Regions from separate parts of the Homo sapiens genome. Here region 2 is linked to region 1. Evidence: fine-mapped expression QTL. A gene starts in region 1. The other region holds a variant in brackets. All regions are shown on one strand. Distances are from middle to middle.

Region 1 (5,384 bases):
TGAAAATTCCCCAAATTTGATGAAAAGAGCATTAATTTACATATTCAGGCAGCTCAAGCAGGATAAAAGAAAAGAGGTCAATATCCAAATATATCTAGTTAAAATATTAAAGACAAAGACAAAAAAAATCTTGAAAGCAGCAAGAGTATGTGTAAGGGAAGCAAAATAAGATTAATAGCTGATTTCTCATCAGAAATAATGGAGGCCATGGCTGGGCAGGGTGGCTTATGCCTGTAATCCCAGCACTTTGGAAGGCTGAGGAGGGCCGATCACTTGAGGTCAGGAGTTCAAGACCAGCCTGGCCAACCTGGTAAAACCCCATCTCTACTAAAAATACAAAAATTACCCAGGCATGGTGGCACATGCCTTTAGCCCCAGGTACTCAGGAGGCTGAGGCATGAGAATTGCTTGAACCTGGGAAGCAGAGGTTGCAGTGAGCCGAGATTGTGCTGCTGTACTCCAGCCAGGTTGATAGAGTGAGACTCTGTCTTGGAAGAAAAAGAAATAAGGGAGTCCAGAGGTAGTAGGATGGCATATTTAAAATATTGAAAGAAAGAAAAAAACGCTATCAACAAAGAATCATGTATCCAGAAAAAGCATCTTATTAAGGTAAGCAAAAACCAAGAGAATGTGTTGCTAGCAGACCTGATTTATAAGAAATATGGAAGGAAGTTATTCAGGTTGAAAACAACACAAAGCAGTAATTTGTGTTCATAGAAAAATACCATAGAGCACCAATAAAGATATTTCTTCTCCTGAGTGATTTAAAGCAATTGTATAAAACACTATGTATAATTGTATTATTGGGTCTATTATATATAGAAATGTAATATACTTGTCAAAAATAGCACTAAGGAAGTAGGTGGGAGCAAAGCTGTATCAGTGTAAGGACTTACTGAATGACCCAATCATTAGAACCTTGTTAAAAATGTAGAGACTAGAGCTGCTTTGTTTTATTCTTGATTTTATGAGGAATATGAAAAATACTTAAAAGGAAAAACAAACAAACATGACTTTGGAGTCGGAAAGTTTGGACTGAGTCCTTTCTTTGAGCAACTTTTAGCAGTTTGAATTTAGACTGCTAGCTTCTTTGAGTCTCAGTTTCTGAATTTATCAAATGCAGTTAGTGGTATACTATCTGATCTAACTGCTTTGTCCTATGTGTCCTTCAGAAGTATCCTCGAATGTGGTGATATATTGACAGAGCTGGTGGATTCATCAGAATGTGGGAATGTTCCTATTTTTATTCTACACTTCAGCCTGCCAGTTCAAATCCTTCCCAGTTCAGCTCCAAAGCAGCCCCTCTCCCATCACTCAAAGGCCATCCAATTCCCATTCTCACAGTTCCTCAAGACAGAAAGGATCCTTCAACTCCATGGCCCTTCATCAGCATATATATATATATATATATATATATATATATATATATATATATATATGTATTTTTTTTTAAATTGGAGATGGGGTCTCACTATGTTGCCCAGGCTGGTCTAGAACTCCTGGGCTCAAGTGATCCTCCTGCCTCGGCTTCCCAAAGTGCTGGATTATAGGCTTGAGCCACCACGCCAGCCCATCAGCACATCTTTAATTGCATTTTTCCACAGTCTTCCTTAAGTAATTCGTTTTCATGAACTATCTTTTCTTTTAGACTGGGTTTGCTGAAGGGAGCGGAGGCTCCTGTCTTCCATTTCAGTCATGTCTTACTAGACACTAAATAGAGGTAAATTACTGAATGCATTCAATCTGCATCAAGCCTCCGGTAGTCCTACAGTAACTGGTATCCCTCCCCTCCCCAGAAAATAATATTTTGTTTTATTAATGCTGGCTACAGCAGAGTCTGGTTTTCTTAAGAGTTCCTGCAAATCACAGGTTCGTCCTTTAACTTTGAGACCCAGGGAAGGAGGGAGCAAGGGAGGGAGGGAGGGAGGATGCTGTCAAGTCCGCAAAAATATGGACAACCTCAGAAACCTATAAACAGAAATATACTAACATGGTATATTTCTTACTTTTAAGGCCCTGAAATTATTAATTTTCCTTTCTTCTTTCTATGCGATTTTGGTTTCCAAATGTGTACATTGAGCAGGTATTGTTTTATGATTAGGGCGAAATTGCTGCTGCTGCTGCTGCTGCTGCTGCTGCTGATTACAAAAAATAGGCTGCAAGCAAGCCGTGCTTCCATTTAAAAGCTCCTCTTTGTTGCCTCGACAAGCAAGGGGTACTCGATAGCACTTTTCGGTTAGATTCTAATAGAAAGAAAGCTTTAAATTTCTCTCTCGGAAGCACTTTGTCAGCCAGGGTTTTCCCTCTCGCCCACCCTGCAGTTAAGGAAATCTAAGAGGTGGAAGTGGGGCGGGCTGGAGGGCCACAGACAGCCGCTGACCCAGACGCCCCATCTCCCGCCCCAGGGCGAGGGTGCGCGCTGTCGCTTATTGGCCAGCAGGGTCCCAGACCTTGACCAATCGCCTGGGGCCGGGTCGTCATGGCGACGCGCCACGCTAACGCATGGTGTCGGAGGGAGGCCCACTTGCTGAACAGCAGGGAGCGATGGCGCAGAACGTGTATGGTCCGGGAGTCCGGATAGGCAACTGGAATGAGGATGTCTACCTGGAGGAGGTACGCAGGGTGTGGCCAGGCGCAGACCCGCAGCTCAGGAACTCCCAGACCCTGCTCTAAGTTCAGTCTCCTACTTTGAGCGCCTCAAGCCTCCTCTCTCTCCCAGCATACAGCGAATACCTCTAAAATCCCCCACTTCTCTAAACTCCCAAGGAATCTCACCTGCCGAACTGCAAACCCAGGTCTCACTGACCTCTACTCCGAGCACCCTGACTTTTCTTTCTCTGGGTCCCTTGGCCTCCCAAAGTCAGATGCCTTGACTCTCAAGCCCCTGGCCTGTGTCTCCCGCTTAGTCTAGAGCCCCACTAAGTCCCCCGTATTCCTTAGAGTCTTACAGTCTCAGGCTGCGGGCCAGGTGAGGACACAGGTTCTAGGTAGAAATAATATCCCTCCCCACTCCAACCCTGCCACGCTTGCCCTCTTAAATGACCCTGAGTATTCCTTTTATTGACGTTGTACTCACTCACTGCCTCGTATTCTCCCAAGGGTGGTCTTAACAAGGCTTTGAGCCATTCGTATACGGGTCAGATTGGGGAGGGGTGAACTTTCTAGTGTCAGTCATCATACGGTCAAGGGAAACCCCAGCAGGGGAGACATGGCCTCCAAATGTCATTTAGGATGGTATCTGGCTGGAGTAATTACTGGTGATGTTTCTTTTTCTTTGTTTTGCCTTTCTCATTTTTCTAAACATTCTATAATGTAGTAAAAATATTAAAGTAGTGCTAAAAACGTTCCATCATTCCAATTATGCTCACATCTCTTTTTTTGTACTCAAATTTTGCTTTTTCAACTTGGAAGAGCTTCTGACCTAAAAGTTATTAATACTAACATCTATATTATTCAGGGCTACTTTTGTTGATTTTCTGTTTAGGAGCTCATGAAAGACTTCTTAGAGAAGAGAGACAAGGGGAAACTTCTCATACAGAGAAGTAGAAGACTAAAACAGAATCTCTTGAGACCGGTAACTTTTTTTTTTTTTATTACACTTTAAGTTTTAGGGTACATGTGCACAACGTGCAGGTTTGTTACATATGTATACATATGCTATGTTGGTGTGCTGCACCCATTAACTCGTCATTTAACATTAGGTATATCTCCTAATGCTATCCCTCTCCCCTCCCCCCACCCCACAACAGGCCCCAGTGTGCGATGTTCCCCTTCCTGTGTCCATGTGTTCTCCATTGTTCAATTCCCACCTATGAGTGAGAATATGCGGTGTTTGGTTTTCTGTCCCTGCGATAGTTTGCTCAGAATGATGGTTTCCAGCTTCATCCATGTCCCTACAAAGGACATGAACTCATCATTTTTTATGGCTGCATAGTATTCCATGGTGTATATGTGCCACATTTTCTTAATCCAGTCTATCGTTGTTGGACATTTAGGTTGGTTCCAAGTCTTTGCTATTGTGAATAGTGCCGCAGTTGGTGGGACTGTAAACTAGTTCAACCATTGTGGAAGTCAGTGTGGCAATTCCTCAGGGATCTAGAACTAGAAATACCATTTGACCCAGACATCCCATTACTGGGTATATACCCAAAGGATTATAAAACATGCTGCTATAAAGACACATGCACACGTATGTTTATTGAGACCGGTAACTTTAAATTCAGACATTGTTTTCAAAATTCTGTTGAACTTGGTGTGAGTATATGTTAAGCAAGAAAAAAATTTCATAACTGAGTTACCATTTGGAAAATAACAGTTTTTAAAAACAATTTGCAATGTTTTAAATTCTTCTAAGATTTTAGAAACATAAACAGTCTGCCCTAAATCATGTTTACCTGCATTTTACAAATAAAGAAATAAATGAGTTAATATGTAAATAAGTAAAATGCCCCTTAGTTGGTAATCGACAAATTTTTCAATGAATGTTGAATTTCTAGGATAATGAGTAAATCCATGTGATTTTAACCAGCTTTATTCGACTTCATTTGGAATTATTGGGAGCTTTGCCTTGGCAAAGGGGAAGGGAAAGGAAGAAGGAACTAAGGGTTCGAGGGAATCCAAGTGAAATCCTGAATGAAATGGGTACTAGTCCGAGAAGGAAGAAAATTGCCTTGGCAGTAACTGTTGAGGAATTGCATGGTTTATGTAATAAACTACTATCAAAATTGTAGATGCAACTTTCCGTAACTGAAGATGGCTATATTCATTACGGTGACAAAGTGATGCTTGTGAATCCTGATGATCCTGACACAGAAGCTGATGTGTTTCTGCGTGGGGACCTGAGCCTGTGTATGACTCCAGATGAAATTCAGTCCCATCTGAAAGACGAATTAGAGGTACCCTGTGGCCTGAGCGCAGTTCAAGCCAAGACCCCAATTGGCAGAAACACTTTTATCATTTTGAGGTAAAGAGACTTTAATTTTCAGTTCATTTTCATCATAAATATGTTTCACTTGTAGCTTAAAGATTCCTGGGTATTGGAGCCACTGAGTGGAGGGAAAGGTTTTGTGAACATTTTTCGTGATTTTCATCTTGCTTTGCTTACCTTGAGAATTATTGTCAAAGGAACTTTACAATCCCTTTTTACCTTAGACAGCAGGATAATTGTGTTCAATTCAAAATGCTTAAATCATGAGTATAGGATCCAGGGAATTAAATCCATATTCTGCCTGGAAGCAAAGTAGGTTTTCCCTATAACATTTTGGAACTTTTTGAGCTCATTTGAGTGTTTTCATTGTTCTTAATACGGCTATTTTTTTTTTTACAATAAAAACGTGTAGTTTAATACAATGTGGCACTAGATGGGATTTTCTCTTTTAAAATTA
Region 2 (5,384 bases), 22 kb before region 1:
GCTGGGCACAATGGTTTTGGCACCCATCAAGTAGAAAGTTTGTTCAACTTTGCTTTTTTCGGTTAGAATTGTATGTGCTCCAGCCTGGGCAACATAGTAAGACCCTGTCTCTACAAAAAATTTAAAAATTAGCTGGGTGTGGTGGTGTATGCCTGTAGTCCCAGCTATTCAGGAGGCTGAGGCAGGAGGATCACTGGAGTCCAGGAGTTTGAGGCTGTGATGACCTATGATTGCACCATGGCACCCCAACCTAGATGACAGGGTAAGACCTTATCTCAAAAAAGAATTGCGTAAGTTACCAATTGAGATGTCTATGATGTTGGTTATTGTTTCTACTGTTAATGTCAATTCTCTTTAATCAGGGCATAAAGAAGATAATATTTTTCCTTCCAAATTGATGTGGATGGTCTACCACTGCAGGCTTCATCTTCAACATTGCCTCATCCCTTATTAAAATTAATTATTCATTTTTAAACTGCTGATTTCTTTGGGGCATTATTACCATAAACTTTCATAAAGCATCAGTGATTTCACCATTTTTCCACCCAAATTTCTGCATAAATTTGATGTTTGTTCTTGGTCCAATTTTAGCAGAATCCATGTAGCTCTGATACGAGATCTTTGCAAACTGATGTCTTATCCTTCTTAGTGCCTCAAAATAGATCCTGTTCAGACATTCAGTACAGGTTAGTGTGAGTTTGTTTTGGTGCAAAATTTTTTTAAATCCATGTATAGTTTTTTCATAAGATGTGTCTTCCATGAACTTTTTGAAGACCTCTCATATTTGTTTTATGTAATTGAATTCTGTCTTGCTTTTGTTTAAAAGAAGTCTCCCCTGCTTAAAAGGGGGCAAAAATTTAAAAAATTTTCTGGTGATTTTGAAGGACAGCATCCTCCTATAACGAAAATATCAGTTAAAGGTCTCTATGTTTTTTGATATCTAGAATAAATGACTTGAAGCCCCCCACTCCCTCCATCCCCTTTATGCCACTTAGAAGTCTGAAACCCTCCCCAGGATATCTGTGAATTTCCAGGAGGGTGCTGTTCTCCTGGTCACCCTTGCCTCTGGGTGCTTCTGGAGAATGCATCACCACAGATGGGAAACTTCATTTCTTTTCACTCTCTTAGGCAGACTGAGACTAAACACTACTCTGGGTCCATGCCGGCATTCCCATACCCACCAGAGTGTTAACTACAAAAGGGTTTCCCTTTTTAGAAGCCAGTGGAGAAAGTAAATAGTAAGAAATCTCTTCCGCTCTCAGGATTTCATAGTATAAGCAGGCATATTACCCAAGTGGTCAGCTTCGGTGGAAGGGGACTGGAGACTGACCACCAGATGATCAAGGGCACTAAAAAGGGGATGCAAGACCTTAGGCTCATAGTCCTGTTCCTGGGGACGAATGCTGGGCTCTGGTGGCCATGCTGGGCTGCGGAGAAGCAAAGGTGCATTGTTGGTGTGATATTCTTTCCCCCAGGGGTCTGCTAGAAGCTGAAGGCAAAAATAGATGGAGACAAAAAAGACTAGGAGACCCTTTCTATGTAGAGACATCACTCTATGTTCTTTGCAGAGAATAGGAATACGTGCCTTTGATCAGATGAGCTATTAAAAAATGATTATGTAGTTCTGTTAAACTGGATTATTTTCAATATCCTGTCTGCTTTTTCAAAGGACTGTTATTTAGTGGGAAAACATTGCTGAATTCCTTTCAGAGAAATCCTCCCTGTACTGACCCTTCGGCAACACACCTTACACATGTAACTACTTGTTCAGAACAGTCTTCTCCTTCTGACTCTCCACAAAGGCGGGGACCATGAGTATCTTATTTCCCACTGCATCCAGAAGGCTGAGCACAGTGCTTGACGCACAGTGAATTTTGGTTGAATGAACAATTGAAAGGATTTGCCCATTGCAGTGTCATTTTTCCAAGACCTGACAATATCACTTTTGATTCTTTTCTTATTTAGTTCCACCTCCTTATCCCCGCTGCCACTGCTTAAGTCAGCACACGGCATCACCTCTCCTGGGGCTATCTTTAACTAGGCTTCCTGACCCCCTACCCTGGCCTGTCTGCTTTAAATCCAGGCAATGGCCTGTAGCCCCAGCAACCTTCCGAAAGCTCTACTCTCTGTCCCTTGTCAATTTCCTCTTCTGAAAGTTTCAGGGGCTCTCCACTACTTGCAGAAGAAAACCACCAACTCTTGCCTCGATGCTGAAGGTACTTTCCCATCATCTCCCCTCTGCCTCTCATCACCCTGTGTCCCTCCTGGCCCTTGCTTTCTTGCTTCTGTGCTTGGCCTCATCCTCCTTCCTCTGCCTGGAAAGTGCTTACCTCTGTTCTTGCATCTGCATGTCCAAATCCTATTCATCATTTCTATTATTATGTCATTTAAGTTTCAAAAAGTCTCTGAGTCATTGTTCCTTAAATAGCAGTTTTAAAAGGTGATTCTAAAGAAAAGGATTTGATGTTGAAATTAGCTTAGGAAGTGTTGTATGGATTATTGCCATTTTGTAGATTTATAGTGCAGGCCATTAATTCAAGGATCTGAGAAGATCTGCAATCAAGAAACCTATTTAACTCAGCATTTCTCAAATTTATTTGACCATAGAACCCTTTCCCCTTTCACACCTATTAACATATTGCAGATTATTTTGGAAATACTTTCCCGAGAGTTACCAGTAATATCTTTAATCTGTTTTTAATGATGAAGATGCTGAGGCTCAGAGACAAAAATACTTGCGCAAGCCGAGTGAAAGGAGCTTCAATCTGTTTTTTTTTTTTCTTTACTACACTGTGATGACTTACATTTGTCATCCAACAAGAACTTTTAAACTTTCCGAACTATGGAAAGTAAGACAATAGCCTGTATTTATCTTTCCTAATATCTGAATTTTGTCCCACTTCTCTTTTCTAAAAATGATTATTCCCAAGTTTTTCTTTCACTTTTCTTTCCTGCCAGATGTTTTACAAGTAATGAAAGGCTCCAATTAAATTTTCCCAAGAGCTTCATCAAATAATGAAAACAATACATAGAGCATGTTATATCTTTATGAACTTAAAATTAAAACATAATTTTGAGATTACATATAGGTATAATAAAACTATATAAAAAGAAAAGCAAGTGGATAATGAACACAGGATTTAGGAGATGGTTACCTTGGCTGG[A/G]GGTAGGGAGGGATGGGGAATGAAAGACTCTTATATTTAGATGTAGATTATTATCAAGATCTTAGCTTTTATTTTGGGGTTATAGGTTTACAAGTGCTTATTACATTATTTAAAAATAACCGGCTAAATAACTAGAGGACCACTGCTGAGAGTGTGTCATAATCCAATTTAATGTACCTGAGACCCTAAAATAAATACATAAATCATAAAAAAGAAAACAATAGCAAATTAAGTTTTCTAGTATATAGCTAGTTTATGTCAAAATAATACTTTTAAAGCGAGGTGAGTGGTGGCCTGATTTTAAGGGGATATTTATTGCTAAGTAATACTGAGTAAATTGCACAGCATCCAATAATGTATGAGTGCATTTCTGTTTTAATCTTGGCTTTGAGAGTTTTTGAGGAATGTAAATTTAAAACTTGATATAATCACATGTAAAATGAATATTTTATGATAAAAAGAGTAAAAAGTAATAAAAGGAGAATTTAAAAAATCCCTTGCATATTTATTATTTTATTATCACCTGGCTTTTAAATTCATCTGCGTTGTAAGTTGTGAGATGATTCTTTATGTTACTTTGTTTATCTTGTTAAGATTCATTTGGGGAGTCAAGGGACTCTGCTCATGCCCAAGTCTGTGCCCTCTAATGAGTAACACCAGAGACTGCACAGTGTCCAGGAAATAGACTTCAGCAAACTAGTCTAGCCAAGGTCACTGGAGTGTTTTCCAACACTAACAACCAATTATTGATTCTCCAGACACCAACTGGGTGTCCAACAATTAAATTCCACTCTGACATTAACTACCTGGAGTTAGTGTCAGATTTCACAGGCTAAAAGCGTTCGGTTTTACAAGACTGCCTTCACTTCAGATGCCAAGTGCAAGTCCTGGGCCACCCATACTTCTGGCTGTAAAATCAGGAGTTCCCATGGCCCCCTCCTCAAGTTCAATTATTTGCTAGAATGACTCATAGAGCCAGGAAAGTACTCTGCGTTTACTGATTTATTACAAAGGATGTTATAAAGGATACAACTCAGTAACAGCCAAATGGAAGAGATGCATAGGGTAAGGAGTGAGGAAAGGGGTGCAGAGCTTCCATGACTTTTCTGGGTGCCACCTTCCCAGCACCTCGATGTGTTCACCAGCCCAGGAGCACATCAACATTTATTGTTCAAGAGTTCTCTCAGAGCTTAATCTCCAGCCCCTCACCTTTCTTCTTGGAGCTGGGTCAGTGGAGCTAAAAGTCTCCACTCTCGAATCACTTGGTCCTTCTGGTGGCCAGTCCCATCACGAGGCTATCTAAGGGCTCCACCCTAAGTTACCTGATTCGTATAAATTCAGTGTGATCAAAAGGAGCTTATTATGAATAACAAAAGACATTCTCATCATTCAGGAAATTCCAAGGGTTTTAGGAGCTCTGTGCCAAGAACAAAGAAGAAAAACCAAATATGTTTCTTATAATACCACAGTTGCCAAACAAATATACTAGCAAACAAGCAAACAAAAACAATGAGCCCTGGGCATGGAGAAAAAATAGACAGAGCTGCTACAACATACAGGCATACCTCAGAGATAACGTGGGTTTGTTTCCAGACTGCTGCACTGAAGCATATATTGCATTAAAGTGAGTCACATAGATTTTTGTTTTCCCAGTGCATATAAACATTTATACTTACACTATACTGTGGTCTATTAAGTGTTCAATGGCTTTATGTCTAAAAAATGTACATATCTTAATTTAAAAATAGTTTACTGCTAAAAAATGCTTAGAGCCATTTGGGCTTTCAGTGAGTTGTAATCTTTATGATAGTGGAGGATCTTGCCTTGCTGTTGTTGGCTGCTGACTGTTGAGGGTGGGGGTTGATTAGGGTGGCTATGGCAATTTCTTAAAATAACACAACAAAGAAGTTTGCCACATTGATTGACTCTTCTTTCACATGTCAATCTAAACAAACAGAGAGAGGCTCTCTGAAAGAAAAGATGTATGTTTGGGGATAGAACATCGCAATGGGAATATGCATGTCATAGTAAACTAAGTGCATATTCATGGAGGTAGAGGAAGACGAGGGTTTTTGTTTGTTTGTTTGTTTTAAGACGGAGTCTCGCTCTGTCGCCCAGGCTGGAGTGCAGTGGCGCGATCTCGGCTCACTGCAAGCTCCGCCTCCCGGGTTCACGTCATTCTCCTGCCTCAGCCTCCCGAGTAGCTGGGACTGCAGGCAC

The links.
Region 2: its variant is fine-mapped to the expression of CFAP161 in whole blood (TOPMed, PIP above 0.99).

The regions. Positions count from the first base shown.
Region 1 is chr15:81,131,786-81,137,169 of GRCh38, forward strand. It overlaps CFAP161 (cilia and flagella associated protein 161), which reads left to right and starts at 2,485. Exons shown (of 7, transcript NM_173528.4): 1 at 2,485-2,613; 2 at 3,485-3,574; 3 at 4,731-4,963. The coding sequence starts at 2,545.
Region 2 is chr15:81,109,427-81,114,810 of GRCh38, forward strand. It overlaps a transcript of CFAP161 not described here. Among named protein-coding and RNA genes, the nearest start is that of CFAP161, 22 kb to the right of the region's middle. RefSeq lists an enhancer at 2,179-2,338. The variant A/G (reference allele first, on the strand shown) is at 3,165.